Linked DNA regions of Homo sapiens: regions 1 and 2 are each linked to region 3. The links come from fine-mapping of genetic effects on gene expression. A gene starts in region 3. Each other region holds a variant in brackets. All regions are shown on one strand. Distances are from middle to middle.

Region 1 (8,179 bases), 32 kb before region 3:
GCACCTGTCACCACGCCCAGCTAATTTCTTCTAGTTTTAATAGTCCAAGCTTCGGGAGAAAAGATAGTTTTAGCATAGGTAGATGAAAGGAAAAATTATTTTCTTAAAGATGTTGACACTCACTGGGAAGTTGATTTTCCTTTAGACAAATTCAACTGAAGAGATGTTGAAGAGTACGGGAAAGGCTGATTTCTTGACTCACTTTACTTTTTTAATTAAAAGAAAACTTTTTTTAAACATAACTTCAGTAGGTTAGGACTAATAAGTTTGCTGCAGGAACATCAAGGCAATTACTCTTTTCAACTCTGGCAGAAATTCAACTGTAGATATGCTGAATAAACTGGACACATTAAGATGCTCAGAAAGCAGGAGAAGGCCAGGCACAGTGGCTCACACCTGTAATCCCAACACCTTGGGAGGCCAAGATAGGAGGATCGCTTGAGCTCAGGAGTTTGAAACCAGCCTAGGCAACACAAAGACCCCATGTCTACAAAAAAAACAAAACAAAAACAAAAAAACAGTTTTAATCAGCCAGGCATGGTGGCACGTGCCTATAGTTCTAGCTGCTCAGGAGACTGAGGTGGGAGGACTGCTTGAGCCAGGAGGTCAGGGCTGCTGTGAGCCATGATTGCACCACTGCACTCCAGCCTGAAGTGAGACACTGTCTCAAAAAATAAAATAAAAAAGCAGGAGAATCTGTGCCTGATCTGTTGAGTCAGTGTGATGAGACTCATGGTTTGGAATTTATAGTGCAGATTATGGCTTTTATTCTTTCCTACGGCTCTTCTCTTTAAGGGAAAAGGGACCAGAATCATATAAGGCCATAGTTTTCTTCTTTTGTTTTTTTGAGATGGAGTTTCGCTCTTGTTGCCCTTGCTGAAGTGCAGTGGCACAATCTCGGCTCACCGCAACCTCCACCTCCTGGGTTCAAGTGATTCTCCTGCCTCAGCCTCCCGAGTGGCTGGGATTATAGGCATCCACCACCATGCCTGGCTAATTTTGTATTTTTAGTAGAGACGGGGTTTCTCCATGTTGGTCAGGCTAGTCTCGAACTCCCAACCTCAGGTGATCCGCCCGCCTTGGCTTCCCAAAGTGCTGGGATTACAGGGGTGAGCCACTGCGCCTGGCCAAGGCCATAGTTTTCAAACTGAGATGTGTATAACATACATGTGATACATTCTTCTGAAGTATCAATCTTACTAGGTAGCAGAAAAAAAAAATTGAAACATTTTTACATCTAAACAAACATTAGGGCAGAGAATGCAAAATTGGCACATATTTTTAAGTTAAAACATGAGAAACTGCGACACAGAGCTTCTGCAGTGGCTGCTTGGAGTCCACCTGCAAACAAACACTGGAGAAGCTCTGCATCCAGTCCAAACACCCAACATTTTATATTCGAGAATACTCAGGCTCCCCTGGCCATATAACTGGCTGGAAGCAGAGACAGGACTAATGCCAGGCTGCTCTGCCTATAACCCAAGCTATTTCTGCTGCCACTCACTAGAATTTTTATCCCCATTTGACTCTGGTATATTTGTTTGCTTCAAGTAATGAATTCCTACTGAGGTGAAATTAAATTCCAGAAACTGAGGAAAAGACAGCTACCACACACTGAACCCCTTCAAGATTCTTTTTTTTTTTTTCGAGATGGAGTCTCGCTCTGTCGCCCAGGCTGGAGTGCAGTGACTCCATCTCGGCTCACTGCAAGCTCCGCCTCCCGGGTTCATGCCATTCTCCTGCCTCAGCCTCCCAAGTAGCTGGGACTACAGAAGCCCGCCACCATGCCTGGCTATTTTTTTTTGTATTTTTAGTAGAGACGGGGTTTCACCGTGTTAGCCAGGATGGTCTCGATCTCCTGACCTCGTGATCCATAAAAGAAAAAAAAAGATAAATTAAATTAGGCATTATAAAAATGTAGAACTTTTGCTCTGTGAAAGATACTGTGAAGAGAATGAAAAAATAAGCCACAGATTGGGAGAAAATATTTGCGAATAACATATCTGATAAAGGATTTATACCCAGGATATATATAAAGAACTCTTGGCCAGGCACAGTGGCTCACGCCTGTAATCCCTGTACTTTGGGAGGCTGAGGCAGGTGAATCATCTGAGGGCAGGACTTCGAGACCAGCCTGCCTAACATGGTGAAACCTCATCTCTACTAAAAATACAAAAAATTAGCCAGGCGTGCTGGCAAGCACCTATAATCCCAGCTACTCAGGAGGCTGAGGCAGGAGAATCACTTGAACCCGGGAGGTGGAGGTTGCAGTGAGCCAAGATCGCGCCATTGCACTCCAGCCTGGGCGACAAAAGCAAAACTTCCTCTCAAAAAAAAAAAAAAAAAACTCTTAAAATTCATCAATAAGAAAACAACCCCACTCCCGTGGGCAAAAGATCTGAGAGACACTTCACCAAGGATATACAGATGGCAAATAAGGATATGAAAAGAAGCTCAACACTGGCTGGGCGTGGTGGCTCACGCCTGTAATCCCAGCACTTTGGGAGGCCGAGGCGGGTGGATCACCTGAGGTCAGGAGTTCTAGACCATCCTGGCCAACGTGGTGAAACCCCGTCTCCACTAAAAATATAAAAATTAGCTGGGCGTGGTGGCAGGCATGTGTAATCCCAGCTAGTCGGGAGGCTGAGGCAGGAGAATCGCTTGAACCGATGAGGCAGAGGTTGCAGTGAGCCGAGATCGTGCCACTGCACTTCAGCCTGGGCAACAAGAGCAAAACTCTGTCTGAAAAAAAGCTCTCCCTCTCCCTCTCCCCCTCCCCCTCCCTCTCCCCATGGTCTCCCTCTCCCTCTCTCTCCAGGGTCTCCCTCTGATGCAGACTGGAGGCTGGACTGTAGTGCCGCCATCTCGGCTCACTGCAACCTCCCTGCCTGATTCTCCTGCTTCAGCCTGCCGAGTGCCTGGGATTGCAGGCGCACGCCGCCACGCCTGACTGGTTTTCATATTTTTTTGGTGGAGACAGGGTTTCGCCGTGTTGGCCGGGCTGGTCTCCAGCTCCTAACCGCGAGTGATCTGCTAGCCTCGGCCTCCCGAGGTGCCGGGATTGCAGACGGAGTCTTGCTCACTCAGTGCTCAATGTTGCACAGGCTGGAGTGCAGTGTTGTGATCTTGGCTCGCTACAACCTCCACCTCCCAGCCGCCTGCCTTGGCCTCCCAAAGTGCCGAGATTGCAGCCTCTGCCCGGCCGCCACCCCGTCTGGGAAGCGAGGAGTGTCTCTGCCTGGCCACCCATCGTCTGGGATGTGAGGAGCCCCTCTGCCCGGCCGCCCAGTCTGGGAAGTGAGGAGCGCCTCTTCCCGGCCGCCATCCCATCTAGGAAGTGAGGAGCGTCTCTGCCCCGCCGCCCACCGTCTGAGATGTGAGGAGCGCCTCTGCCCAGCCACGACCCCATCTGGGAACTGAGGAGTGTCTCTGCCCGACCGCCACCCCATCTGGGAGGTGAGGAGCGTCTCTGCCCGGCCGCCCCGTCTGAGAAGTGAGGAGCCCCTCCGCCCGGCAGCCGCCCCGTCTGGGAAGTGAGGAGCGTCTCTGCCAGGCAGCTGCCCCCTCCAGGAGGTGGGGGACAGCCTCTGCCCGGCCAGCCGCCCCGTCCGGGAGGCGGGGGGCGCCTCTGCCTGGC[T/C]GCCCCGTCTGGGAGGTGGGGGGCCCCTCTCTCCGGCCGCCACCCCGTCTGGGAGGTGTACCCAGCAGCTCATTGAGAACGGGCCATGATGACGATGGCGGTTTTGTCAAGTGGAAGGGGGGAAAGTGTGGGGAAAGGAAAGAGAAATCAGATTGTTGCTGTGTCTGTGTAGAAAGAAGTAGACATGGGAGACTCCATTTTGTTCTGTACTAAGAAAAATTCTTCTGCCTTGGGATGCTGTTAATCTATGGCCTTACCCCCAACCCCGTGCTCTCTGAAACATGTGCTGTGTCCACTCAGGGTTAAATGGATTAAGGGCGGTGCAAGATGTGCTTTGTTAAACAGATGCTTGAAGGCAGCATGCTCGTAAAGAGTCATCACCACTCCCTAATCTCAAGTACCCAGGGACACAAACACTGCGGAAGGCCGCAGGGTCCTCTGCCTAGGAAAACCAGAGACCCTTGTTCACATGTTTATCTGCTGACCTTCCCTCCACTATTGTCCTATGACCCTGCCAAATCCCCCTCTGCGAGCAACACCCAAGAATGATCAATAAATACTAAAAAAAAAAAAAAAAAAAAAAGAAGCTCAACATCATTGGTCTTTAGGGAAATGTAAATTAACGACAATGAGATACCAGTACATAGAACTGCGGAAATTAAAAGAAAAAAAAAAAAGCCTGACAATACCAAATGCTGGAAATAATATAGAGATACAGAAGAACACGAATTCTCATTCACTACTGGGAGAAATACAAAATGGTACAGTCATTTTAGAAAACAGTTTGGTAGTCTCCTGTAAAGTTAAACCATAAAGTTACCAAACAGCCTAGCAATCCCACTCTTAGGTATTTACTCAAATGAAATTTCACACTAAAACCTGTACATGAATGTTTACAATAGCTTTCTTTATAATCACCAAAAACCAGAAACCCAGATGTCCTTTAATAGGTGAATAGACACCAGGCGCGGTAGCTCACGCCTGTAATCCCAGCACTTTAGGAGGCTGAGGAGGGCGGATCACCTGAGATCAGGAGTTCAAGACCAGCCTGACCAATATGGAGAAACTATGTCTCTACTAAAAATACAAAATTAGCTGGGCGTGGTCGCACATGCCTGTAATCTCAGCTATTCGGGAGGCTGAGGCAGGAGAATCATTTGAACCCGGGAGGCGGAGGTTGCAGTAAGCCAAGATTGCACCACTGCACCCCAGCCTGGGCAACAAGGGAGAAACTCCGTCTCATAAAAAAAAAAGGTGACTAGACAAACTATGGTACATCCAAACAGTGGAATACTACTCAGCAATAAAGAGCATTGGACGCATGCAACAACATGGAAGAATTTTAAACGTATTTTGCTGGCCAGGTGCAGTGGCTCACGCCTATAATCGGAGCCTGAGGCAGGTGGATTGCTTGAGCTCAGGAGTTCCAGACCAGCCTGGGCAACGTGGTGAAACCGTCTCTACAAAAAATACAAAAATGAGCCAGGTGTGGTGGCACAGGCCTATAGTCCCAGCTACTTGGGGTGCTGAGGTAGGAGGATTGCTTGAGCCCAGGAAGTTGAGGCTGCAGTGAGCCGAGATGGCGCCACTGCACCCCACCCTGGGCAACAGAATGAGACCCTGTCTCCAATCAATCAATCAATCTACCTTTTAAAAAAATGTATTTTGCTAAGTGAAAAAAGCCAAACCTCAAAGGCTACATATTGTATGATTACATTTTAAGACATTCTGGAAAAGGCAAAACAATAGGGATGGAAAACAGGTAAGTTGTTGCCAGAGATTGAAGGAGATAGAGGGGTTGACTACAAAGGGGCCACTATAAGGGATTTTTTAGGGTGATAGAACTGTTCAGTATGGTACTGTGGGGTATATATCTGACTCTATGCATCTGTCAAAACCCATAGAACTAAACATCATAAAGAGTACACTTTACTATATGTATGCAAAAAATTTTTAAAAATGTTTTTTTGGGACAGAGTCTTGCTTTGTTGTCCAGGCTAGAGTGCAGTGGCACCATCATGACTCACTGCAGCCTTGACCTCCCTGGCTCAAGCCATCCTCCTGCTTGAGCCAGGAGAAATTGGGACTACAGGTATGTGCTACCAGGCCTGACTAATTTTTTTTTTTTTTTTTTTTTTTGTAGAGATGGGCTCTCACTATGTTACCCAAGCTGATCTCAAACTTCTAGGCTCAAGCAATCTTCCCTCCTTGGCATCCCAAAGTGCTTGGATTAGAGGTGTGAACCACTGCAGCTGGCCACTGTATGCAAATTTTTTAAAATAACCAGAATATCTGGGAACCCAGGATAGACTACAGACTGTAACAAATGAAATCTAACTGCATTACAAACGTCTGATATAACCTCAGAGAGGAAAACAAAAGGAGCTGATCTAAGTAACTTCATAAAACAATGTTACTACTCGATACTGTAAGGATAAAAACAAACAAACAAACTGTAGGCAAACATTGTACTCTAGTTGGTAAATCTGTTTCTCACAGGAGTAATCACTGAAACTACAGGTTACACAAATAAGTAAATATACTATAGGGAATGAGAGCTAAATTTCTTACTCTGAGAAAGAAGTCACAAATAAGCAAGGGGGGAAGACTAGAATGAATCTTGTGGTGCTGGATTAGTCAGAGATACCAGTATAAACCCATGCTTATTTTAATATACATACAGATAGAGAAATAAATATAAATGTGTGTATATATAGATTAATATACATACATACATTTCCTAGCTCTTTCCACTGAAAGGGACTAGAAGCATCTTGTAATACCAGACAGGAAGTACTAAACACACACACACACACACACACACACACAGAGAGAGAGAGAAAGAGAGAGAAAGGAAGGAAGGGAGGGAGGGAGGGAGGGAAGAAGGGAAGAAGTGAGGGAGGGGAAGGAAAAGGAAGGAAAAGGAAGAAAGGAAGAAAACAAAAAGAAAGAAAGAAAAGAAAGACTCTGATGAATGCTAAAATCAGAGGGTGAAACTTTAAGGAGAAATAGGACATCTGCATAGCCTGAGGGTATCTCCCCTAAAATATTTATTAATTACTGTGGTGCTTTTAACATATGTCCGCAAATTATTTGATAAGCTTTCATCCTGGAAATGAAGCTTAATTCTCCTTCTATTCAGTGTGGGCCAGACTTGGCAAATGATTTCCAACAAATAAGACTAGGTACTGTCATTTTATGGAAATGGAAAAGAAAAATAACACAAAAAGAGAAAAATCGTGACTTTTTCAGTGGAGAAACGTGTATACAATCTCAACCAAATGATCAAAGTTACCATCACCAGTAATAAGCCATGCTAATACTATGTTGATATCATACTTTGATATGATCCAATGAGAAGGGTACTTCACTTCTGTGGTATACTTTCCCAAAATCCATAATGCCAAGTCTAATCATGAGAAACCAAAACCCAAATGGAGAGACATCTACAAAAGAGCTGACCAGTACCCTTCAAAAGTATCAAGGTCGTAAAAGACAAGGAAAGACTGAAAACTGTCAAAGATTGGAGGACACTAAAGATACATGATGACTAACTGCAGTATAGTATCCTAAATTGAATCCTGAAATGGAAAAGGGACATAAGTGAAAAAACTGGTGAAATCCAAGACTATAATTTAGTTAATAGTATTGTACCTATATCAATTTCTTAGTTTTAATAAATGTACCATGATGATGTAAGATATTAATATTAGGACAAGGTAGATGAAGGGTATACAGGAACTCTTGGTACTATCTTTGAAACTCTTGTGTAAATCTACAACTATTTCGGGCCAGGCACAGTGTCTCACACCTGTAATCCCAGCACTTTGGGAGGCAGAGACGGATGGATCACCTGAGGTCGGGAGTTCGAGACCAGCCTGACCCACATGGAGAAACCCCATCTCTACTAAAAATACAAAATTAGCTGGTTATGGTGGCGTATGCCTGTAGTCCCAGGAGGCTGGGGCAGGAGAATTGCTTGAACCCGGGGGATGGAGGCTGCAGTGAGCCGAGATCACACCATTGCACTCCAGCCTGGGCAACAAGAGCGAAACTCTGTCTCAAAAAAATAAAAATAAAAATAAAAATCTACAACTATTTCAAAATCAAAATTAAACCTGTAATCTCAGCTACTTGGAAGGTGAAGTGGGACGACTGCTTGAGCCCAGGAGTTTGAAACCAGCCTGGGTAACACAGTAAGACCGTGTCTCAATCAATCAATCAATAAAAAATTATAAAAACAATAATATAGGACAGTTTCTTAACTTTAGTACAATTAATATTTGGGGCCAAATAATTCTGTTATGGGAAGTTGTCCTGTGCCTACTAGAATGTTAGCAATGTCTCTGGCCTCTACCCATTAGATGCCAGGAACCCACCTCCCCAGTTATTAGAACCAAAAATGTCTCCAGGGATTGCCAAACGTCCCCTAGGAGGCCAAATCACCCCAAGTTGAGACTACTGATATAGCTATATACATTAACATATAAAGATATCCATAACATAGTGTTAAAAGAAAATAGAATAGTATCTAACCTCTGA
Region 2 (8,179 bases), 94 kb before region 3:
AAATTTATTAGACAATCCAATAATTTTTCTTCCAGATTTAATACTACTCTAGTGTTCTCTGTTTTCTCCTCCAGATCCATTATTTATTCTTCTCCATCTTGTTCTGTGTTCCTGGAAGCCAACCTTTATAAGCTGCAGGAAATGGATTTCCTACTCTCCACCTTCTGATTGGGCTTGACCAACGGGGAGCACTGGCAGAAGACAAGCATGGGAGGAAAAAGAGATCAGGGTATTCATTTCCCCAGATCCCTCCCTGTCCTCTACTTAAAGGTCATAAGTCCATCCAGGTGTCATCTCTTATGTAGGATTCTAGCGACATCTTCTCCCCTTGTTCCTTTAGGCTTAGGAGTAATAACACTTTTCTGTTCTTGCTAGTCCTGAGGATAAGTGTTTTGTCACCTCTTGTTGATTTCCCTGACTTCAAATACCAAACACTATTTTTTTGCTATTTTTGAACTTTATGTAAGTAGAATCATACAGTATATATTTTGGGGGGTAAGGTTTTTTTTGTTTTGTTTTACTCAATAATAGGTTTGTGAGCATCATCCATGCTATTGCATAAAACAGTAGTTTGTTTTCATTGCTGCATAGTATTTTTCACTTATACATTGTACTATTAATAAATATTTGAGGGTTTTTTTTCCCAAAAGTGCATATGTGTCTCTTGGCTGTACACCTAAGAATAAAACTTTGGGTGACAGGATATGTATACCTTCAACTTTAGTAAACAATACCAAACTGATTTCTAAATGCTAGTACGCATTTACAATTCTACCTGAAATGTATGAGTTACCATCATCTGTAGGATCTATAGTGATTTCTCCCTTTTCATTTCTGACATTTCTTTTTTTGTGTCCCTTTTTCCCTCTTTCCTTTCCTTTTCTTTCTTTCCTTCCTTCCTTTCTTCTTTCTTTTTTATTGAGAGTCTTGCTCTGTCACCCAAGCTAGAGCGCAGTGGTGTGGTCATGACTCACCACAGCCTCGACTTCCCAAGCTTAAGCAATCCTCCCACCTCAGCCTCCTGGGCAGCTGGGACTACAGGCATGTGCCACCACACCTGGCTAATTTTTTGACCCATTATTGAGAAGTATGTTAAAATTCCCATTGTGGTTTTGAATTTGTCTATTTCTTTTTTGAGTTCTGTCAGTTTTTGCTTTAAGTATTTTGAGGCTATGTTGTTGGAGAATCTAAGTTTAGAGTTATTTTATCTTTTTTTAATTTTACTTTTTTTAGAGATGATGTCTCCCTGCCTAGGCTGATTTGGTCTTATTTCTGAGCTCAAGGGATCGTCCCACCTCAGCCTCTGGAGTAGCTGGAACTACAGCACGTGCTACCATGCTTGGCTTAGAATTAGTTCATCTTTTGATGGGTTGAACTTTTTTTAATGAAGTGTTTCTATTTATTTATTTATTTATTTATTTATTTATTTATTTATTTATTTTTGAGAGGGAGTCTAGCTCTGTCGCCCAGGCTGGAGTGCAGTGGCATGATCTCAGCTCACTGCAACCTCCACCTCCCAGGTTCAAGCGATTCTTCTGCCTCAGCCTCCTGAGTAGCTGGGATTACAGGTGCCCACCACCACACCCAGCTAATTTTTGTATTTTTAGCAGAGACAGGGTTTCACTGTGTTGGCTGGGCTGACCTCGTGATCCACCCGCCTCGGCCTCCCAAAGTGCTGGGATTACAACCGTGAGCCACCTCGCCCGGCAGTCTCTCTTTATTTCTTTTTTTTTTTTTTGAGGGGGACGGAGTCTTGCTCTGTCGCCCAGGCTGGAGTGCAGTGGCGCAATCTCGGCTCACTGCAGGCTCCGCCTTCCGGGTTCATGCCATTCTCCTGCCTCAGCCTCCGGAGTAGCTGGGACTACAGGCACCCGCCACCTCGCCTGGCTAACTTTTTTGTATTTTTAGTAGAGACAGGGGTTTCACTGTGTTAGCCAGGATGGTCTCAATCTCCTGACCTCATGATCCGCTGGCCTCGGCCTCCCAAAGTGCTGGGATTACAGGTGTGAGCCACTGCGCCCAGCTCTCTTTATTTCTAATAATTATTTTTGCCTTAAAGTCTACTTTTTCTGATATTAATATAGTTATAACAGCATTGTTTGGTTGGTATTTGCATAATATATCTTTTTTATTGATTCACTTTCTTATAAACTTTTTAGTTTGAAATAATTTCAAACTTGCAGAAGTTTTGAAATAGTTCTAAGACCATCCATACACTCTTCCCTTAGATTACTCATTTGCCTTATTCTCTCTATCTATCCCTTATATATAATATATATTATATTAGTATATGTAATTTTTCCAACCCATTTGAAAGTAAATTGTATATATTATGCCCCATTACTCTTAATACTTCAGTATGTATTTCAAAAAAAATTATACTCTCCTACATTACCCTTACAAAATCAGAACCAGAAAATTAATACTGATAAAATACTACTATTTAACCATATAAACTAATGCATTAACTCCATTCAAATTACACCAATTGGCTGGGCGTGGTGACTTATGCTTGTAAGCCCAGCACTTTGGGAGGCCAAGGCAGGCAGATCACTTGAGCCTAGGAGTTCAAGACCAACCTGGGAGACATGGTAAAACCTTGTCTCTACAAAGAATACAGAAAAATTAGCTGGACGTGGTGGTGCACACCTGTAGTCCCAGCTACTTGGGAGGCTGAGATGGGAGGATCGCTTGAGCCCAGGAAGCAGAGGTTGCAGTAAGCCGAGATCACGCCACTGCACTCAAGCCTGGGTGACAGAGTGAGTTCCTGTCTCAAAAAAACCTAAAAAGCCTCTCCCTCTCCCCTCTCCCCTCTGCCCTCTCCCCTCTCCCTCGTCCCTCGTCTCCCTCGTCTCCCTCATCTCCCTCGTCTCCCTCTCCCTCTCCCTCTCCCTCTCCCCGGTCTCCCTCTGATGCCACCAAAGTTGTGAAAGCCGAGGCTGGACTGTACTGCCGCCATCTCGGCTCACTGCAACCTCCCTGCCTGATTCTCCTGCCTCAGCCTGCAGAGTGCCTGGGATTGCAGGCGCGCGCCGCCACACCTGACTGGTTCTTGCATTTTTTGGTGGAGACGGGGTTTCACCGTGTTGGCCGGGCTGGTCTCCAGCTCCTGACCGCGAGTGATCTGCCTGCCTCGGCCTCCCGAGGGGCCGGGATTGCAGACGGAGTCTCGCTCACTCAGTGCTCCATGTTGCCCAGGCTGGAGTGCAGTGGCGTGATCTCGGCTAGCTACAACCTCCACCTCCCAGCCGCCTGCCTTGGCCTCCCAAAGTGCCGAGATTGCAGCCTCTGCCTGGCCGCCACCCCGTCTGGGAAGTGAGGAGCGCCTCTGCCCGGCCGTGACCCCGTCTGGGAACTGAGGAGTGTCTCTGCCCGACCGCCACCCCATCTGGGAGGTGAGGAGCGTCTCTGCCCGGCCGCCCCGTCTGAGAAGTGAGGAGCCCCTCCACCCGGCAGCCGCCCTGTCTGGGAAGTGAGGAGCCCCTCCGCCCGGCAGCCACCCCGTCTGCCAAGTGAGGAGCCCCTCCGCCCGGCAGCTGCCCCGTCCAGGAGGTGGGGGGCACCTACGCCCGGCCACTGCCCCGTCTGGGAGGTGGGGGGCGCCTCTGCCCGGCCGCCACCCCGTCTGGGAGGTGTACCCAACAGCTCATTGAGAACGGGCCATGATGATGATGACGGTTTTGTCGAATAGAAAAGGGGGAAATGTGGGGAAAAGAAAGAGAGATCAGATTGTTACTGTGTCTGTGTAGAAAGAAGTAGATATTGGAGACTCCATTTTGTTCTGTACTAAGAAAAATTCTTCTGCCTTGGGATGCTGTTAATCTATAACCTTACCCCCAACCCCGTGCTCTCTGAAACATGTGCTGTGTCCACTCAGGGTTAAATGGATTAAGGGCGGTGCAAGATGTGCTTTGTTAAACAGATGCTTGAAGGCAGCATGCTCCTTAAGAGTCATCACCACTCCCTAATCTCAAGTACCCAGGGACACAAACACTGCGGAAGGCCGCAGGGTCCTCTG[T/C]CTAGGAAAACCAGAGACCCTTGTTCACATGTTTATCTGCTGACCTTCCCTCCACTATTGTCCTATGACCCTGCCAAATCCCCCTCTGCGAGTAACACCCAAGAATGATCAATAAATACCAAAAAAATAAAAATAAAAATAAAAAATAAAATAAATAAATAAATAAAAATTTAAAAAAACTAAAAAGCAAGCAACAACAACAACAAATTACACTAATTGTCCCCCAAATTACCTTTACAGGCCCAGCATCCAATTCAGTCGCCTTCAAGGAGTCTCTTCAGTCTAATTTATTCTAGAACAATTCTTCAGGCTTCCCTTCTCTGGCCAAGATTTTTGAAAAATACAGGTCAATGACTTTGTAGGTTGTCTTCAGTTTGGATTTGTCTGCTGTGTCCTCATGATTTATGCATCTCTGGCAGGAATACCACAGAAACGATGCGACATTCTTCTCAGTGTACCATATTAGGAGTCACACAATGTCAACTTGTCCCATTACTGCTGATGTTAATGTTTACCACTTGGCTAAGATGATGTCTGCCAGGTTTCTCCACTGGAAAGTTAACAGTATTTAGTACGTGTTAAGTGATGAGTAATGAATAAATATTTCATAGGGAGATGTTCTGAGAGTATAAAAATATCCTGTTCCATATCAAAGTTGCTTCACCCAGTTTCAACCCAAATCAATTACTACTACGATGGTTGCCAAGTGAAGATTTTCCCTTTTTTTATTTTTATTTTTATTTTTTTAAGACAGAGTCTCACTCTGTTGCCCAGGCTGGAGTGCAGTAGCACAATCTCGGCTCACTGCAACCTCTGCCTCCTGGGTTCAAGCAATCTTCCTGCCTCAGCCTCCGCAGTAGCTGGGATTACATACACCCACCACCACAGCCAGCTAATTTTTGTATTTTTACTAGAGATGGGGTTTCACCATATTGGTCAGGCTGGTCTCGAACTCCTGACCTCAGGTGACCCACCCACCTCGGCCTCCAAAAGTGCTGGGATTACAGGTGTGAACCACTGCTCTAGGCCAAGGTTTTTCTAATTTCAACATTTTTTTACATTTATTAGTTAATATTCTTATTCTATGACGAAACAGAGCTTTCCATTCTCCCCAATGTATTTATTCATTTATCTATTTATATCATATAAACACGTGGATTCCTATTTTTCTCAATGAACTACAATCCATTACTTGATACCTATTTTGAAAGTCATACTATCTTAGATTTGGCCAGTGGAAGATGCTTCAAGTTGGCAGCTGCGCCCTTTAGTGTGTCTTCATAATTCTTTGAGCATTTATTTATTTCCTGGCACAGCAAGGTATTCTAGGTTCATCTTGTACATTTCTTGCTCCAGCCCACAAGGAGCCCTAGTCCAGCACTGAGAATGCCATCTATAATGGGCGCCAAAGATGTTCAGTGCTGCCAGAGTGCCACTGATTTCAGGCAGTCTCAGCAGACAGAACAAGGAACTACGTCAATGTGTGTGTTCAGACACATACACATCTAGATCTATTTTTTGTTGTTGTTGAGATGGAGTCTTGCTGTGTTGCCCAGGCTGGAGTGCAGTGGCGTGATCTTGGCTCACTGCAGCCTCTGCCTCCTGGGTTCCAGTGATTCTCCTGCCTCAGCCTCCTGGGTAACTGGGATTACAGGCATCCACCACCATGCCCGGCTAATTTTTGTATTTTTAGTAGAGACGGGGTTTCACCATGTTGGCCAGGCTGGTCTCAAAATCCTGGCCTCAGGTGATCCACCCGCCTCGGCCTCCCAAAGTGCTGGGGTTACAGGTGTGAGCCACTGCAGCCAGCCATTTTCATTGTTTTTTAGTCGTTCTTACATTTTTGAGCTTCCATCTGGGGTTATTTTCTTTCCGACAGAAAAGCACCCTATGTTATTTCCTTCAATATGGGGCTGCTGGAAAGAACTATCTTTTTAATTTTTTGTCTGAAAAAGCCTTATGTTACCTTAATTTTTAAAGGATGTTTTTGCTGAGTATAGAGTTCTAGACAGGCAGCGATTTTCTTTAAGCCCTTTGAGTACAGTTGGCCTTCTCTATTGGGATTCTGCATCTACGGATTCAACCAACTATGGATCAAAAATATTTGGGGAGGCCAGGCACAGTGGTTCACACCTGTAATGCCAACACTTTGGTAGGCCAAGGTGGGCAGATCCCCTGAGGTCAGGAGTTCGAGACCAGCCTGGCCAACATGGTGAAACCTTGTCACTACTAAAACTACAAAAATTAGCTGTGGGTGGTGGCGGGCGCCTGTAATCCCAGCTACTCGGGAGACAGAGGCAGGAGAATTGCTTGAACCAGGGAGGTGGAGGTTGCAGTGAACCAAGATCGCACCGCTGCACTCCAGCCTGGGCGACAGAGCAAGATTCCACCTCAAAATAAATAAATAAATAAAAAAGTCGGGGAAAAATAATTTTTAAAAATAACAATACAACAATAAAAAATAACATAAATAAAAAACAGAATACAATCTGGGTGTAGTGGTTCATGCCTATAATCCCAGCACTCTGGGAGGCTGAGGTAGAGGATGATTTGAGCCCAGGAGTTTGAGACCAGCCTGGGCAACATATCAAGATTTTGGTATCCATGGATGATCAAGTCCCTTATATAAAATTTGTTCTGAAACAAATCCCCCACACATACTGAGGGACAACTGCATATTATTCAGTGTCTCCTGGCTTGCATTATTTTTGTTGAAAAGTCAACTGTTAGTCTAGTCTTCCTTTGAAGGTAAAACTGCCCTTTTCTCTGACTGCTTTTAAGATTTCATCCAGCCAGGCGTGGTGGCTCATGCCTGTAATCTCAGCACTTTGGGAGGCTGAGGCAGGTGGATGGCTGTGCCCAGGAGTTCAAGATCAGCCTGGGCAACATGTTGAAAACCTGTCTGTACAAAACATACACAAAAATTAGCCGGGTGTGGAACACAAAAAAAATTAGCCAGGCGTGGCAGCATGTGCCTGTAGTCCCAGCTACTCAGGAGGTTGAGGTGGGAGGATCACATGAGTCTGGGAGGTGGAGGCTGCAGTGAGCCACGGCTGTACCACTGCACTCCAGCCTGGGCAACAGAGTGAGACCCTGTATCAAAAAAGAAAAAATTGTCTTTGGTTTTTGGCCATTTTACTCTGATGTGCATAGGTATACTTTTCTTTTAATCCTGTTATAATTCATAAGGCTTCTTTCCTTCCTTCCTTCCTTCCTTCCTTCTTTCTTTCCTTTCTTCTTTCTTTTTCTTTTTGATAGAGTTTCGCTCTGTTGCCCAGGCTGGAGTGCAGTGGAGAGACCTTGGTTCACTGCAGCCTCCACCTCCCGGGTTCAAACGATTCTCGTGCCTCAGCCTCCTGAGTAGCTGGGACCATAGGCACGTGCCACCACGCCTGGCTAATTTTTATATTTTTAGTAGAGACAGGGTTTCACCATATTGCCCAGGGCGGTCTCAAACTCCTGGACTCAAGTGATCCGACTGGCTCGGCCTCCCAAAGTGCTAGGATTACAGGCATGAGCCACCATGCCCAGCAATTTTTGTTGTTGTTGTTGTTGTTTTTTTTTTTTTGAGATAGGGTCTCACTCCATTGACCAGGATGGAGTGCAGTGGCTCAAACACCGGCTCACTGCAGCATCTCCCTCCTGGGCTCAAGTGATCTTCTTGCCTCAGCCTCTGAAGTAACTGGAACCACATGCATGTCCACCACGGGTGGCTAACTTATTTATATTTATTTATTTATTTTTTTATTTTTTGAGATGGAGTCTCACTCTGTTGCCCAGGCTCGAGTGCAGTGGCGCGATTTCGGCTCACTGCAAGCTCTGCCTCCCATTCTTCCCGTCATTGGTTCTCCCATTCTTCTCCCATTGGTTCACACCATTCTTCTGCCTCAGCCTCCCGAGTAGCTGGGACTACAGGCGCCCGCCACCAAGCCCGGCTAATTTTTTTGTATTTTTAGTAGAGACGGGGTTTCACCATGTTAGCCGGTATGGTCTCGATCTCCTGACCTCGTGTTCCGCCCTCCTCAGCCTCCCAAAGTGCTGGGATTACAGGTGTGAGCCACTGCACCAGCCTCCAAAAGTCTTCTTGTTTAACTGTGGTTTGATGATTTTTACCTGTTTTGGAAAATTCTTGGCCGTGCTCTTCAACTTATCACTTCTGCC
Region 3 (8,155 bases):
ATAACACCAGAGACCTGGAGACACCTGGACACGCCCTTCTCATTCACTGGCTTGAAGGTCTCTTAGGTTAACCTAACCAGGAGAGGGGCAATTGGGAGAAAAGTCTCCTCCTGCTCCACACATTTTGCAGCCTCCACACAGAAGTCCACCTTAATGGATCTCGGCCTCGCAAAGGAAGAGCTCCGTTCTCAGCTTCTTTGCATATCAGGAAGCTTGAGCCCCTTTGTCAGGAAGGCTTCCATTGTGTGGACAATCGCATTATTTCTCCATTAATAAACCTGACCATTCAGCCCTCCTGGCCCCAAAGCCCATGATTGGCTGATTACGCTGTGTTTGGACTTCTGTCTTACCCAGCCCCTAGCCCCTATTGGGTGAGCTCTGCTGCCAATCACTTTCCCCACCCCCCGCCTCATTGTTTGCAATCTGTTGCATTTTGTTCCAGGCCATGTGGCCTGTGAGTGAACTAGAAGCTCACAAACAGGTTCAGGTTAAAGGGTAGGTTAGAAAATGATTCAGCAGGCTTCCCTACATCCCAAACCTTTAATTTTCAGTGTTAAGCCTCGTGGCTCAGGAAGATTCTATCTAAGAAAGAAATAATTTAAGACACCATTCTCCCTTTCAGAGAGTAGTGTCTTACTCTATCCAGACAAGGAAATGTCATCAGCAGGACAATCAAGTCCAACCCCATCGTGTGCAAATGGGGAAACTGAGGCCCAGATCAGCGAAGTCCACATATCACCTTTGTAACGTTCTGGATCTCAAACTAAAATGTCCAACTTCCAAAGCAATGCTCTTTCCACTCTACCACTCCACCAGCCGTTGTAGAGATACATCTTTATTGGTTTTTTGATCTCAAGATTCTCTTTCCAGCCATTAAACAAACATAAACTCTTGGTGTAGAAAGCAAGCTGGTTAAAAATGACCTTAACACAGTGGACCAGGAAAAAAAAGACTTTTAATTTTTGTTATCCTATTTTTTCTCTCAAGTGTAGGAAAACTTCCATACCCCATTCCCCAGTTCCCTATCAAATGGTCGTGTAAAAGTTATTCCTAAAAGCTACAGTGAGCTTTCTTGGTCCTAATTTATTTGTCACTAGCCACAGTCTACACTCTACAAAAATACCCTCTCCAGGATTTCTCACGGGTGTGGAGGTCTAAGATGCCAGAATAAGAACAATGTAGTTTAGTGGCACAGGATGCCCCAGTCTGCCCTCAGCGAGGTTGCACTTGCATCAAGGATGGGAGAGGAGGGCCTGGAGTTCTACTGCCTTGACCCCAGCATGTAGCCCACAGATTGCCACAAAGTAGGGGCCAGTGAATATTTGTTGAATGCCAGGGAGCAGCTGACGCTGGAGATCTATTGAGGGGGAGCAAGAAGGACACTTTTCCATCTCAGGACAAACAGCAAGGCAAGGTGTAGTGCTTCTAAGATAAGCTACCACAAAGACCCCAAACATCAAGGAAGAGGTGCCTGGTTGGGATGGAGCATTGGGGAAGAGGGGCTGGCTAGATGGCAGAAAGCTGGAGCTGACTTGTAGTGATTGTCTATCTCTAAGCCTCAGTTTTTCCATCTGTTAATGGGGAGTGTTCATTCTTCCCTCCCTGTCTCAGGGATGCACGAGTGGTAAGTGGTGGTGGGGAGGCACGAGAAGAGGGCATTTATTATTGGCATTTTAAAGTAAAGCCAACTGGAGACCTAGGTTTTTAAAAGGACGAAGGTTTTGGCTTTGCACAAAAGGCTCTCGGCTTCTTCTCCCCCTAGGGGAGTGTGAGTTTCCTAGGGAAAGAGGCAGCAGCAAAAAAACTTCAGGTTTGGAGTGTCTCTTAAGGTACCCCCTTCAATCCCTTACAGTCCAACCCCAGTATTGTCCTCTCTAAGCGCCAACCCTCACCTCAAATCCCTTGTCCCCTGGGGCTCCAATAATCATCAAAGGGAGGCTGGCTCCCACGCCACTTTTCCAAACTGTTTACCAACACACCCACGTGCCAGACAGACACGGTTGGGGACTACACGGGCAGCTTCAGCCAAAGAGAGGCGGAGATGGCCCAAGAGCTTGAGAAGAGCCAATGCCTGACCTCAGGCAGGGGCAGAGCTTTGGCCACCCATGGGGTGGCCCCCTCTTGGATGGCTCGGGGAGGTCCTTACCCGAGTCGCTTGGGCTCTCGGACCCGGAGCAGGCCTGGGTCTTGGGTTCGCCCAGCGGACAGGGGGCGGCGGGCGCCGGGTTGCCGGCTTCGAGGCTGGGAGTGCAGTCCGGGGCGGCGGACGCCTTGGGCGGGTTCCCCCGGGGCGCGCCAGGAGCGAGCCGGTCGCTCACAGCTCTCTCCAGCCGTTCCCGGGCCGAGAAGCCGCTCCACATGCAGTCACGGCGTATGATGGAGGCGTAGTTCCTGCCCCAGCCTTTCGAGTGGCCCCGGGATTCCGCTTCGTCTCCGGTGCACCCTCCGGGCCACGGCTCCGGGGGACCAATCCCGGGGGCCGGGTCCCCTGCGCCGGGACCCAAGCCCCAGGGCGGCGACGTGGGGGGCGATGGCACCAGCTCGAATTTCTTCCAGATGTCCTCGCTGGGCGCCGTGGAGCGGTAGAAATCCTCCCCGCAGTCATAGTCGTAGAAATAGTGCTGGTACGAGTCGTAGTCCATGTCCGCTCCCTGCGGGAGGGAAGGGGGGACGTGCTGACCGGGTGCCGGCCGGGCGAAGGAGGTGTCCCCGGGTCCCTCGGCACAGTCGGCTGCCGGGCTCTCGTTCCTCCCCAACCCCACCAGCTTGCAGCCTGCGCCCAGTCCTCGCGTCCCGGGAAGCCGGGCCCCGGGTCAGAGTGGTAGGGGAAGCCAATCGCAGCGCGCGGACCCGACTGTGGGCAGCGAGTTCAAAGCAAACTTTGCCAGCGCCGCCCGGAGCGCAGCTCCCAGGGCCCGGCGGGGCCGGGCGGGGGCGCGCCGTGCCCAGAAGGCAGCCTGCAGCCAGCCCGCACCGCGGGACCCGCGCCCGTGCCCTGGCCACCCGCAGCCTCACCTCGCTCCAGCCGCCCGCCACCTGGAGCGGACCGGCTCCCCGCCGGCTCGGGGCAGCCCGGCAGCCAGCACACACGCACATGCGCGCCGCCGAGAGCGCGGCCCGCACTCACAAGCGCGCCCCCCCCGCGCGCGCGCCCTCCCTCGCTCGCGCACGGCGGCCCGGACGCTCTCGGGATCGGCGCGGGAGCGCGAGCTGCAGGCGCATTGTTTCCTGACTGCCTTATATCTCGTCGCGCGCCCGGGACCCAGGGACTGGGGGGCGGGCCCTATGGGACAAACCCCGCCCTCTCCCTGCCTACTACGGGCAGTCGACAGGTGGGGCCGGCCCCACCTCCTGGCAGCGCTCGCCCGCTCCGTTCAATCCCCGGTAGCCCCCCAAATAAATTGCACGCTGGGGAGCGCAAACAGGAGGAGGGCTGATGCGGCCCGGCGGCCGCTTGGCGGTGCCAGCCGGCTGAGCTAAACCGTGCTCCTTGCCCACTCCGAGCTGGGGAATTAGGGCTACTCCCCGCCCCACCCTGCGCGCCTACTTTCCCCGGCGCACCCCGCTGGGTTCAGGTGCGCCCGAGCCGCCGCGAGGGGTAGGGGGAGGGAAACGCGCCACCTGGCGGCCCTCAGCCCTGAACTTGGGCTGGTCCCGGCGTCCGTCTGGTCACCCGTCGGCCCGTTTCTTGAGCTCAGTGGCCCAAGCCTGGATGGCATCGAAGCGAAGATTCCGGGATTTAGAGCCCGAAACGTAACCTTCCTGAGCTTCAGTTTCATCTGTAAAATGAAGGGATGGTAATGCTTACCTCACAGGGTTGTTGTGAGGCTTCAGGGAAATAAGAGCATCTAGGGAAGGGGTCTGGTCTAGGTGGAGAGGCAGACGGCGCTGGCTTAGCCCCCGCTTTGGGGAGGCGGTGCAGAAATGAGGAATTTTTCCCAGGGCAAAGCCAGCTGAGACCCGCCATGCTCCCTCTCATCTCACACAAAACACTGTAGGAGCTGTACAGTAGAGAATGAGGATTTGGCATCTGGAAAATACTGCAGGACCAAGTTGTTTCAAGTTTTGCCCTGCATTGCTGGCCAAGATGATAGATAACCCCTTTGTATAATCTTCTTTTTAAATTTTAAATATATTTTGTTAAGAGACAGGGTCTCACTCAGCGTCAAGGCTGGAGTGCAGTGGCTCGATCATGACTCGCTGCAGCCTCGAACTCCTGGGCTCAAATGATCCTCCCTCCTTAGCCTCCGAAAGTGCAGGGATTACAGGCACGGGTCACCGTGCTGGGTCCCCCTTTGTGTCATCTTCTACACAGATGACCTTTGGTGGAAGAGAAAAAATTAAACTATACGGCCAGTCTGAGATTTAGGCCAGAGGAGAGTAACTTGGGACAGCAGCCAATACATCTAGATTCCTCCACCTGGCATCAAGGTCTGGTGTCTGTCTACCCCAGCCTGATTGTCTGCTGTCTCTCTCTTTCCCTCCCACCCCTGTGGTCTAAGAACACCAAACTACTCACTGTTGGCAGACGGAAGTGAGAAGGGCAAGCAATTCAGTGTGGTTGGAGCATGGGACACGGATGTGTGTTGTTATATGGGTTGGGAAGGCAGGGAAAATGACAGCCTTCCGTTTTAGATACGTTGGGTCTGTGCTGCATGTGGGACATCTTGAAGGCAGAAACCTGCTCCTACTTGCTTTGTGATTTCTGCACCTAGAACAGCTTCTGGCAGACATTTGTGAACTAACTGACTTACTGAGGGACTCAGCTAACCAGATTTCACTGAGACAGCTTGTGTGCCCTGCTTTGTGCTAAACGGAAGACACAAATCAGAAGGGTTCCAGGTTTGGTTGCAGCCCCAAGGCACAGGCATTGGATTGTCCTTTAGTGACTTTTCTCTGGTCCACAGATGTCTGAGATGGTTGCTGTACTAGTCTGGGTTATTGGTTACAAATAACAAAAACCAACCTTAGGCAGGGCACAGTGGCTCACGCCTGTAATCCCAGCACTTTGGGAGGCTGAGGCGGGCAGATCACAAGGTCAGGAGATCGAGACCATCCTGGCTAACACGGTGAAACCCCATCTCTACTAAAAATACAAGAAAATTAGCCGGGTGTCGTGGTGGGCACCTGTAGTCCCAGCTACTCAGGAGGCTGAGGCAGGAGAATGGCGTGAACCCGGGAGGCGGAGCTCACAGTGAGCCGAGATTGCGCCATTGCACTCCAGCCTGGGCGACAGAGCGAGACTCTGTCTCAAAACAAAAAAACAAAACAAAACAAACAAACAAAAAACCAACCTTAGACAAATGTAAGCAGAAAATGACTTTATTGGAATAATTGGTGGTATAGACCTCAAGGGAGGCTGGAAATTTATGTTTGGAGAATGGGCCTTCTTTACCTAGACTACAGCCCCCACCCTGCAGCTCTTCCCATGGTTTCATTGTAGATGATATATGGGGGCAACCAGGAGGTGCTGCCCCTCCTCAAGAAGTAGGAAAAAGGAAATTAAGTTGTCTTCTGAGAGTTAACACTGCTTCTTCACTTTGCATACTTTTGTTTGTTTAATGTCTTCCTCGTCAGACTGTAAACTGAATGAGGGCAGACAAATGTCAGCCTTATTCATGGCTGTACCCCAGGGCTTTAGAACAAAGCCTGGCACATCATGGGTGCTGAGTATATGACTGAACACAAAACTCTAATGTTTTAGTTTTTGCGTTTTTTTTTTTTTTCCTTTAAGACAAGTCTCACTCTGTTGCCCAGGCTAGAGTGCAGTGGCGCAATCTCGGCTCACTGTAACCTCCGCCTCCCCGGTTCAAGTGATTCTCCTGCCTCAGCCTCCCGAGTAGCTGGGATTACAGGCACCTGTCACCACGCCTAGCTAATTTTTTTTTTTTAAAGATCATACTGCTTCTGTCCCTTTTTTTTTATTATTATTATACTTTAAGTTCTAGGGTACATGTGCACAATGTGCAGGTTTGTTACATATGTATACATGTGCCATGTTGGTGTACCCATTAACTCGTCATTTACTTTAGGTATTTCTCATAATGCTATCCCTCCCCCCTCCCCCTAATTTTTTGTATTTTTACTAGAGATGGGGTTTCACCATGTTGGCCAGGCTGGTCTTGAACTCCTGACCTCAAGTGATCCACCTGTCTTGGCCTCCGAATTTTTTTGTTGTGTTTTTTTGAGACAGGGTCTCATTCTGTTGCCCAGACTGGAGTGCGGTGGTGCAATCATGGCTCACTGCAGCCTTGACTTCCTGGGCTCCAGGGATCCTGCTACGTCAGCCTCCTGAGTAGCTGGGACCATAGGAGGCATGCACCACCACACTTGGCTAATTTTTTGTAGAGATGGGGTCTCCCTATGCTGCCCAGGCTGGTCTCAAACTCCTGGGCCCAAGTGATCCTCTCACCTTGGCCTCTCAAAGTGCGGGGATTACATATGTGAGCCACCACATCTCACCTCTAATGCTTTAAAGTAGAGATATGCCAATTGTATTAGTTTGTTTTGACACTGCTGTAAAGAAACACCTGAGATTGAGTAATTTATAAACAAAAGAGGTTTAATTGACTCATAGTTCCGCATGGCTTGGGAGGCCTCAGGAAACTTACAATTATGGCAGAAGGGGAAGGAGAAGCAAGCATCTTCTTCACAAAGCAGCAGGAAAGGGTGTGAGTGCAGGAAAAACTGCCATTTATAAAACCATCGAGTCTCGTGAGAATTCACTCACTATCACAAGAACAGTATGGGGGAAACTGCCCCCATGATCCATCACCTCCTACCAGGTTTCTCTCTGGACACATGGGGATTACAATTCGAGATGAGATTTGGTTGCAGACGCAGAGCCAAACTATACCTTATAGAGACAGAAGAACTCTCAGGCCCAGTCTAGACTACAACCTGGTTAAAAGTATTAATGCAGCTAAAGAAAGAGGGTGCCAGTTAGGAGGGTCTGGGCAGCCAAGGAAGCCAGAGATCAGGGAGAGTTGCCAAGACAATCACCAGCAGTGTCCCTTCTCTGGGGACAAAGATGCTGGTCCAGGAAAAAGGGAGATGGAAGTACCATTCTTTGGAGCCACTCAATTCACCCCCTACCTCACTCATGCTCTGGATCACCAAGCAACCCTCTAAAAACCATTCTGTTTCCTATGTAGATCAGTCCACAGGGAGAGAATGCACTCATCATTGAACAGGAAGATCCAGTCTGCTTCAAAGCCCTGCTTCCTCTTATAAATTAATGAATTGGCATCTGATTTGCAATATCAGTCTCATGAACCTGGTTAATGTGTGTCTGTTCTGTAGAGATGCTGCTGCTTTTAGGGCTAACAACTCTGGTTTCTAAGCTGGACCCAGGATGCTGATGAATTTACCAAGGTAACAAATGCTACCCCAGGGACCTTCCATTTTTCTGCAATATTTTATTTCCTTTATTTTTTCTAAAATATGTTTTTAATCAAAATACATGTAATAATTTTTTAAAAAATCAATTAGGCATATGGCAAAGTTAAAAAAAAAAGGCCATCTTCTGTCTTGCCATCAACTGATTCCCACTCCCCAAAGGCAGCTATTGTTTTAGCTTTTTGTTTTTTGTTTTTGTTTTTGTTTTTTGAAACAAAGTCTCACTCTGTCGCCCCGGATGGAATGCAGTGATGTGATCTCAGCTCACATCACTGAGTGTGTGTGTGTGGTGTGTGCCACCATGCCCGGCTAATTTTTATATTTTTAGTAGAGACAGGGTTTCACCATGTTGGTCAGGCAGGTCTCAAACTCCTGACCTTGCGATCTGGCTGCCTCAGCCACCATGCCAGGACTGTCCCTCATATTTCTTTCCATATTTTGACCAATACAGAGATCTACTTTTTCCTGATTTTTAAATTTCTTTCTTTTTCTTTATTTTTTTGAGATGGAGTCTTGCTCTGTTGCCCAGGCTAGAGTGCAATGGCATGATCTCTGCTTACTGCAACCTCTACCTCCTGAGTTCAAGCAATTCTTCTGCCTCAGCCTCCTGAGTAGCTGAGACTACAGGTGTGCGCCACCATGCCTGGCTAATTTTTGTATTTTTAGTAGAGATGGGGTTTCACTATGTTGGCCAGGCTGGTCTCAAACTCCTGACTTCAGGTGATCCACCCACCTCAGCCTCCCAAAGTTCTGGGAT

The links. PIP is the estimated chance that this variant, and not a neighbour inherited with it, causes the effect. A credible set is the group of variants that fine-mapping cannot tell apart.
Region 1: its variant is the best candidate, but not a certain one, in a credible set for the expression of MYCL in whole blood (TOPMed, PIP 0.71).
Region 2: its variant is the best candidate, but not a certain one, in a credible set for the expression of MYCL in whole blood (TOPMed, PIP 0.77).

What each region holds. Positions count from the first base shown.
Region 1 is chr1:39,866,316-39,874,494 of GRCh38, forward strand. All of the region lies in intron 1 of TRIT1 (tRNA isopentenyltransferase 1), which reads right to left. Among named protein-coding and RNA genes, the nearest start is that of MYCL-AS1, 13 kb to the right of the region's middle. The variant T/C (reference allele first, on the strand shown) is at 3,638.
Region 2 is chr1:39,804,804-39,812,982 of GRCh38, forward strand. LINC02811 (long intergenic non-protein coding RNA 2811) reads right to left here. Exons shown (of 4, transcript NR_186710.1): 2 at 8,132-8,179; 3 at 4,251-4,568. LOC130932201 (a long non-coding RNA gene) reads left to right here. Exons shown (of 4, transcript NR_186719.1): 2 at 75-229; 3 at 3,199-3,395; 4 at 4,259-4,632. Among named protein-coding and RNA genes, the nearest start is that of LINC02811, 8.6 kb to the right of the region's middle. The variant T/C (reference allele first, on the strand shown) is at 4,019.
Region 3 is chr1:39,898,793-39,906,947 of GRCh38, forward strand. It overlaps MYCL (MYCL proto-oncogene, bHLH transcription factor), which reads right to left and starts at 3,125. Exons shown (of 2, transcript NM_001033081.3): 1 at 2,147-3,125. The coding sequence starts at 2,642. It overlaps MYCL-AS1 (MYCL antisense RNA 1), which reads left to right. Exons shown (of 3, transcript NR_183425.1): 3 at 1-306. RefSeq lists an enhancer at 225-519 and silencers at 2,379-2,498, 2,909-3,228, 3,489-3,698.